2 separate regions of the Homo sapiens genome follow, and region 1 is linked to region 2. A link means that fine-mapping ties the variant in region 2 to the expression of a gene that starts in the linked region. Tissue or cell type: whole blood. Region 2 holds a variant in brackets; the other region holds the start of a gene. All regions are shown on one strand. Distances are from middle to middle. Region 1 holds the start of CWF19L2 (CWF19 like cell cycle control factor 2). Region 2 overlaps CWF19L2 (CWF19 like cell cycle control factor 2).

What was found. PIP is the estimated chance that this variant, and not a neighbour inherited with it, causes the effect.
Region 1: it holds the start of CWF19L2, and the variant in region 2 is fine-mapped to the expression of CWF19L2 in whole blood (INTERVAL, PIP 0.97).

What each region holds. Positions count from the first base shown.
Region 1 is chr11:107,455,756-107,460,154 of GRCh38, forward strand. It overlaps CWF19L2 (CWF19 like cell cycle control factor 2), which reads right to left and starts at 2,070. Exons shown (of 18, transcript NM_152434.3): 1 at 1,957-2,070; 2 at 1-21. The coding sequence starts at 2,061. RefSeq lists an enhancer at 1,849-2,354.
Region 2 is chr11:107,376,261-107,380,659 of GRCh38, forward strand. All of the region lies in intron 12 of CWF19L2 (CWF19 like cell cycle control factor 2), which reads right to left. Among named protein-coding and RNA genes, the nearest start is that of CWF19L2, 79 kb to the right of the region's middle. The variant G/T (reference allele first, on the strand shown) is at 2,377.

The DNA.
Region 1 (4,399 bases), 79 kb after region 2:
TTTTTCAAAATTGGCTTTAGCCTACAACCAAAGAAAAAAAAAAGACAAACTGGCAATTGACCCAACTGGGTTTCACAAAAAAAGGAAAACAAAAACCTCTGTCATTTTTATACAAAAATATCCACTCATGAATGAATGTCTATTCCTTGCCAGGGATTTGCTTCTCCAGTGTAAAAAAATAAAAAAATAAATAAATAAACAAAACAAAGCAAAAATCTCTCCTTCTGCATTTCCAATCTCCAGTGATTTGAGTTACCAATCAGAGAGAATCCAGGGACTGAGTCCAGGCCCTCCCATCTCTCTAAGCTCCCTAGCTCAATATGACTTGGAATCCCTTTTCCCTTCACCATTCCCATGGCTACTGCCTTAAGACTTTTGCAACAGTTAGACCTCCACGCCTTCAATATGCAATGCCTGTAGCCCCAATACCCAGCCCCAAAAATGCCTCAGGAAGAATCATCTCTGTATAAAGAAAGGATCATATTGGTAATTTTTATCCATTCTTCAATGATAGTCAAACAAAGCAAGTTTTTCCTAGGAAATCGTTCCTGCCCTCTTTCTTTCCCTGTAACTCCAAAGCTCAGTTTGGTCCTTTTCAAATTCTATGCATATCTCTACTATAAGATTTATCTCAACTTACGAAACTTACTCCCTCCAAAAACTGCTGGAAATACCAAAGAGAAAAGAATGAATAATATATATATACCCACACACACACATTACATATGTTGAAATTACGAAACAATACCAACATTTCACCTACCCAAGACTAATCGCCCACTCTTCCCCTTTAAAACCTGGCTGTAGTCATTTTCTTTTTTTTTTTAATCAAATATAAAAATAATTTATTAAAGGTTTATATCAGAGAACTGCTGAAGCAACAAGAACTAGAAGAGTTAATATTCCAGAAAAGGGAAAATCATGGAGAGGTAGTCCAACATTCTGCAGCTAGCTTTTCCCTGGGTGCATATAATAATTCTTGGTGTAGGCAAGAAGATGAATACAATGGTTATATACCAAACAGAAAAATCGATATCAGAGAAAAGAGCAGGGCTTATGATGGACTCCAAAGAACAGGGTGAGAAAATTGGAGATTAAAGGAGAATGGGGCTGCTTCACCCTCAAATTATTTGCCAAATTTTGAAACTATGTCATTTTCCCTTTAGAGTCTCCTCTCCCTCTTCTCTGCTGGCTCCTTCTCATTTGCATTTAAACTTGTTTAAAACTCTTCCAACTTAAATAAAAACAAAAACCCTCACTGAATTCTCTGTTGCTCTCCAACTGCAACTTTTCTCTTTCATTGCCACACTTCTTACATATTGAATAGATTGTCAGATAATTCAGAAGCTTACTTTCTCCATTCTTTGTATGTTACCTCTATGTATCTGAAGTTTAGTGAGAAATACAATGTTTCGCGATCTTTTGTGACAGGCTAAATATACTGAGATTGGTGTTAACTTTTGTTTGGATTGGTAAGAGCTTACAGTAAGTCTGGAATTGATACCAATAGAGACAGGAGGAGGAAATGTCAAACTGAGTCTATTCAAGTGTGACTTGAATGTGTTTCCGAAAAAGGAAAATCTCATTTCAGATACAGCAGTAGCAATGACTGAGGCTGCGAGACATGCTGGCAGAGTCCTTACAAGCCGCAGGGGACCTACAAAGTGTGCAGTCCGAGTGATAGAAATGTAAAGAATGGGTAACTTAAAAGGTAAAGAAACTTGGAGAAAAAGCGACAGATCTGCCTGAAAAGAGAATTAGCAACTGGCACCTGCCAGAACATCTAAAAAATCGGTAGCTACAAAAGGGTTTACCGGCATTGCAAAGGGAGAACTCACCCAAATTAAGGTGAGATTCAGTACTGACGAGGTAAGGGAAGGGGTGAGTGGGCTAGCTTACGGGAACCCTCAACTCCCACAACAATAAATAACTACAAAAGCCCCAAAACAGAGGTACCTGGCGCAACACCTCGGCCCTGGCATTCCGGGTCTGTTCTTTCCGCTCTTCGATACTCTTCGCACTTTCAAATCTACCACTAGCAGCCGCCATACTTGTTGCCATCGTAAAGCTAAGAAGCCGCAAGAAAATTCTAGTTTACGACGGTCGTAATTTAACAAACAAACCGGGACTTCCGGACCCGAGGAAGGAGGAGCACGGCTCCACCAACAGGGCATGCGCACATCTGAGGTCGCTTAGGGCTCGGATTACCGCAGCCCAGATTTTAAAGACCCGAAGGGTGTTGGAGGGTTTAATTCTTTCAGGTGTTGGGTGCGATTGTGAGCAGGATTAATACCCGTATATATTTATTATGCACTTTTTACTATATTAACAGCTTTCTCACCAATTTCGTCTTAAAATCACCGGAGTAAGTTACAAGCTCTTGGAAGTTAAGTTGGTACCTCTCAAAAGTTTTCTGCGGAAGTACCCTTTGTCGCCAGAGCATCATTTCCCTGTGCTGGAGGAATGGGATAAAGGGAGGCTGCCAGAAAGGTAGTGGCAGCTGGCAGGAAGGACAGAATTGCCTTGAAGATTCAGTGTTTTGTTTTGGTGGATTTTACTTAATATATGAAACACTCATGTGAATTTTGCATTGCACTTCACAATTTACCCGTGCTTAACTTGTTAGAAGTTTACATTATATTTTTTCCTCTGACCCCATATTATTTACTCATACTTATCCATCCAAGCATTTTTCATTACAATGGACAGTTACTTATTTATTTCTGCGGAGATTTCTTTGTTTTGTTTTACGCATGTATCGCCCAAACATAAAACTTTTAAGTTCAGAAGAATAAGACATTCTAAGGTGATGAAGTGCTTTGAGAACATAAGACACTAAGCTTACATTTACAAGAAGAAGAAGGCTGGGGAATTAATTATAAACGATACCTTAAAGACGCTAAAAATAAGTAACATAAGCCAGGTTGAGGTAAATACTCTTTCTCTTCAGGTTTCATAAAATTTAATGTGTGTTTGCAAGAAGCTTTCCAAGAGTTTTTACATTCACTACCATTCTATGAGTCTGAATCTTGAACACACAATGCCTACTTGTTTGATATGCAATAGAAAGTATTCATTTTATTTTAAAATGTAATTTACTAATCGACCTTGTAATATTTAATCAACTGACTACATTGACTGATATTTGTCATAACTAGCATCAACGTCTTTTCAGATTCTCTTGGAATTCAGAAAAACATCCATTTCACTGTTTTGCATCAATTCAATAAAAATAAACTGTGATTATATTAGAAACGTGTGTGTTTTAATCAGTTCAGGCTGCTATAACAAAATATTATAGAATGGATGGCTTATAAATAACAAACAAGTATGTCTTACAGTTCTGGAGGCTGGATAAAATCAAGGTGTTGGGCTATTTGCTGTCTAGTGAAGGTGTGTCCTGGTTCCTAGAGGGCAGTATTTTTGCTGTGTCTCATATGGCGGAAAGGGAGAGGGATCTCTCTAGAACTTCTTTTATAGGAATTCATGAGGGTGCTGCTCTCATGACCTAATCACCTCCCAGAGTCCCTACCTCCATATACCAGCACATTGGGGATTAGATTTCAACATAAGAATTTTGGGGAAACAAACATTCGGTCTAGAGCAATGTGCAAAGTTATATGAAGAAAACTTTAAAATCTTGCATAAGCTCCCCAAAAAGACTAGAACGAATGGAGAGGTATACTATGTGCTTAAAGAAGAAAACATCATAAAAAATCATTTCTCAATTAATTTGTAAATACCATGCAATACAAATAAAACTGCCCAAAAAAAAGTTGGGGTTAGAGAGGGGAACTAGATATGTTAAAATAGAAAAAAGAAAAGAAAAGAAAAGAAAGAAAAAGCAGGTTATTTTGGCTAGGTTTGCATTTGGCCACACCTAATGCGAATCCAGTCACATGGCTTAATCAAATAAAGGATAACGTAACAAGGAGCCTAAAAGTAACTGGTCCAGGCTTGGTGCAATTGCTGAAGGAGCCAAATAGTTTATCCTTTTTCGCTTTGTTGCAGTCTGTGACTTTAGTATTTGTAGTCACAAGCAGGGTATCATATTCTTTCACATCTGTTCACGGCATCTGATAAACAAGAATAAAGAGAAAGGACAAAGGGTAAACGTTGTTAGCTAAGCTGGCCTCATTTTTTATTAGAAAAATGATGGCTTTTCCTAAAGCCTAGTTCAGTTTCTTTCATTTAAATCCTATGATCCAGAAATAGGTCAGATGATCACAATTAACTACAAAAGTTTCATGAAGATTGCAGGATAGTTGTGTTATAGAATGTCACTCAACTTGGGTTTGTCGGAGGTTCTTTTGTGATTAAATTCAAATTTGGCCTCTTAAGCAGGACGATCACAGAAGTGAGGCGGTCTTACTGCATCCTGTTGGGTAGCGCATGATTT
Region 2 (4,399 bases):
TTATGAGGCCAGCATCATTCTGATACCAAAGCCGGGCAGAGACACAACCAAAAAAGAGAATTTTAGACCAATATCCTTGATGAACATTGATGCAAAAATCCTCAATAAAATACTGGCAAAACGAATCCAGCAGCACATAAAAAACCTTATCCACCATGATCAAATGGGCTTCATCCCTGGGATGCAAGGCTGGTTCAATATACGCAAATCAATAAATGTAATCCAGCATATAAACAGAGCCAAAGACAAAAACCACATGATTATCTCAATAGATGCAGAAAAGGCCTTTGACAAAATTCAACAACCCTTCATGCTAAAAACTCTCAATAAATTAGGTATTGATGGGACGTATCTCAAAATAATAAGAGCTATCTATGACAAACCCACAGCCAATATCATACTGAATGGGCAAAAACTGGAAGCATTCCCTTTGAAAACTGGCACAAGACAGGGATGCCCTCTCTCACCACTCCTATTCAACATAGTGTTGGAAGTTCTGGCCAGGGCAATTAGGCAGGAGAAGGAAATAAAGGGTATTCAATTAGGAAAAGAGGAAGTCAAACTGTCCCTGTTTGCAGATGACATGATTGTATATCTAGAAAACCCCACTGTCTCAGCCCAAAATCTCCTTAAGCTCATAAGCAACTTCAGCAAAGTCTCAGGATACAAAATCAATGTACAAAAATCACAAGCATTCTTATACACCAATAACAGACAAACAGAGAGCCAAATCATGAGTGAACTCCCATTCACAATTGCTTCAAAGAGAATAAAATACCTAGGAATCCAACTTACAAGGGATGTGAAGGACCTCTTCAAGGAGAACTACAAACCACTGCTCAAGGAAATAAAAGAGGATACAAACAAATGGAAGAACATTCCATGCTCATGGGTAGGAAGAATCAATATTGTGAAAATGGCCATACTGCCCAAGGTAATTTACAGATTCAATGCCATCCCCATCAAGCTACCAATGACTTTCTTCACAGAATTGGAAAAAACTACTTTAAAGTTCATATGGAACCAAAAAAGAGCCCGCATCGCCAAGTCAATCCTGAGCCAAAAGAACAAAGCTGGAGGCATCACACTACCTGACTTCAAACTATACTACAAGGCTACAGTAACCAAAACAGCATGGTACTGGTACCAAAACAGAGATATAGATCAATGGAAGAGAACAGAGCCGTCAGAAATAACGCCGCATATCTACAACTATCTGATCTTTGACAAACCTGAGAAAAACAAGCAATGGGGAAAGGATTCCCTATTTAATAAATGGTGCTGGGAAAGCTGGCTAGCCATATGTAGAAAGCTGAAACTGGATCCCTTCCTTACACCTTATACAAAAATCAATACAAGATGGATTAAAGACTTAAACGTTAGACCTAAAACCATAAAAACCCTAGAAGAAAACCTAGGCGTCACCATTCAGGACATAGGCATGGGCAAGGACTTCATGTCTAAAACACCAAAAGCAATGGCAACAAAAGCCAAAATTGACAAATGGGATCTAATTAAACAAAAGAGCTTCTGCACAGCAAAAGAAACTACCATCAGAGTGAACAGGCAACCTACAAAATGGGAGAAAATTTTCGCAACCTACTCATCTGACAAAGGGCTAATATCCAGAATCTACAAAGAACTCAAACAAATTTACAAGAAAAAAACAAACAACCCCATCAACAAGTGGGCGGAGGATATGAACAGACACTTCTCAAAAGAAGACATTTATGCAGCCAAAAAACACATGAAAAAATGCTCACCATCACTGGCCATCAGAGAAATGCAAATCAAAACCACAATGAGATACCATCTCACAGCAGTTAGAATGGCAATCATTAAAAAGTCAGGAAACAACAGGTGCTGGAGAGGATGTGGAGAAATAGGAACACTTTTACACTGTTGGTGGGACTGTCAACTAGTTCAACCATTGTGGAAGTCAGTGTGGCGATTCCTCGGGGATCTACAACTAGAAATACCATTTGACCCAGCCATCCCATTACTGGGTATATACCCAAAGGACTATAAATCATGCTGCTATAAAGACACATGCACACGTATGTTTATTGCGGCACTATTCACAATAGCAAAGACTTGGAACCAACCCAAATGTCCAACAATGATAGACTGGATTAAGAAAATGTGGCACATATACACCATGGAATACTATGCAGCCGTAAAAAATGATGAGTTCATGTCCTTTGTAGGGACATGGATGAAATTGGAAATCATCATTCTCAGTAAACTATTGCAAGAACAAAAAACCAAACACCGCGTATTCTCACGCATAGGTGGGAATTGAACAATGAGAACACATGGATACAGGAAGGGGAACATCACATTCTGGGGACTGTTGTGGGGTGGAGGGAGGAGGGA[G/T]GGATAGCACTGGGAGATATACCTAATGCTAGATGACGAGTTAGTGGGTGCAGCGCACCAGCATGGCACATGTATACATATGTAACTAACCTGCACATTGTGCACATGTACCCTAAAGCTTAAAGTATAATAATAATAAATAAATAAATAAAAATAAAATAAAGTTACAAAATGTTTAAATTATAAAGTCAATAAATATATATTGTAACAAAAAAAAAGAAAGATAGCATCGATAGTGTGATGGCAACAGGAACAAAGAGAAGTAGATTGGGCATAGGAAGACAAGATTGGTGACAGACTGGATGTGGAGAACAAAGGAGAGATCATTCTCCCTCATCTGATGACTACTAGCTTTCTAATCTAGGTTAGATAGTAGTACTACACAATGGTATAGGAAATACTGAAAACAAGCCAGATTCGTTAAAGAGATACGTGATCCTGGGCAAGCTACTGAATATCTCTGAGCAACAGTTTTTATTAAATGGGGTTAATTATACCCTGTTGAGAGACAATTATAAGTATTATGGTATGAAAAGGATCTGGCACCTAGCAAGTCCTCAAAAATTTGTAGTTATTACTATTTTCTCCCAGATTCTCCCAAGATTGTGTTCTCAAATGAGGCAATTTTGCTTCCTGCCCCTTATTTGGGACATCTGGCAATATCTGGAGACATTTCTGGCTGTCACAACTTAGGGTGAGAGGGGTTGCTATTGGTATTTGCTGGCCAGAGGCCAGGGATGCTACTAAATCTTCTATGGTTCACAGACAGTCCTTCTACAACAAAGACTTAACCAGCCCAAAATATCAATAGCGCTAAGGCTGTGAAGCCATGTTCAAGAGGGATTCTGATTCTGATAACTGCACATGAAAAGTTCTTTTGTATCCACTAATAACAACCATCCACATGAGTTAGGGAGTTAAACTGATTTACTACTGATAACCTGTTCAATCAGTTTCCAAATTCAAGCCTGGTTACAGAAGTTGTTACCAGAAGTGAATTCATAACCTACATTTTAAACATACAAAAATATTAATGTCTTCTAACCATGAAAGCTAATTTGTTTTCCCATTTTGATGTCTGCATAAAGAAAAACCTGAAATACTACAAATTAACTGTCATTTTATTAAGAATCAGATACTCAGCCGGGCGCGGTGGCTCACGCCTGTAATCCCAGCACTTTGGGAGGCCGAGGCAGGTGGATCACGAGCTCAGGAGATTGAGACCATCCTGGCTAACACAGTGAAACCCCATCTCTACTAAAAATACAAAAAAAATTAGCCGGGCATGGTTGCAGGCCCCTATAGTCCCAGCTATTCGGGAGGCTGAGGCAGGAGAATGGCCTGAGCTTGCAGTGAGCTGAGATCGTACCACTGCCCTCCAACCTGGGCGACAGAGCGAGACACCGTCTCAAAAAAAAAAAAAAAAAAAAAAAAAATCAGATACTAAGATCCTTGAATAAAAACTCTATGAAAACTAGAGGCTTATTTTAGTGTCATTATATAGAAAAAAAATGGTTTGCAATGAATCTATTTAATAAGTGCTGCATTATTACACAAGGATTACCAACAATGAAAAATAGACTGCAGTCTAATTCTTACAAAACCATTTCAAATTTTATGACAATGTTTATTAAATCAAAATTTTAATCAAAACTGTGAAACTATCCTTCAAGCTCCAAGCCCTTAAATCCATTGGAAATAGATGAATTCATTGATTAAATATAAACTTCATATCATTTTGGACTCTATGGATAGTGAAGCTATTAAACCACTATGCTCAACTGTCAACAATTTAAACTTTGATTAAAATCTGAGAGAACTGTCCAAAAGACCTCATAAAATCTCACCAGGGTCAAGAACTGGGACCTGATCACAACTGATACCACTTCACACCAAGGATAGCTTTTACAAAAAACAAAACAAAATAAAAAAAAATAAGTGTTGGCAAGAATGTGGAGACACTGTTGGAACCTATGTGCATTCCTAGTGGGAGTGTAAAATTGTTCAAACTGTGGGAAATAGT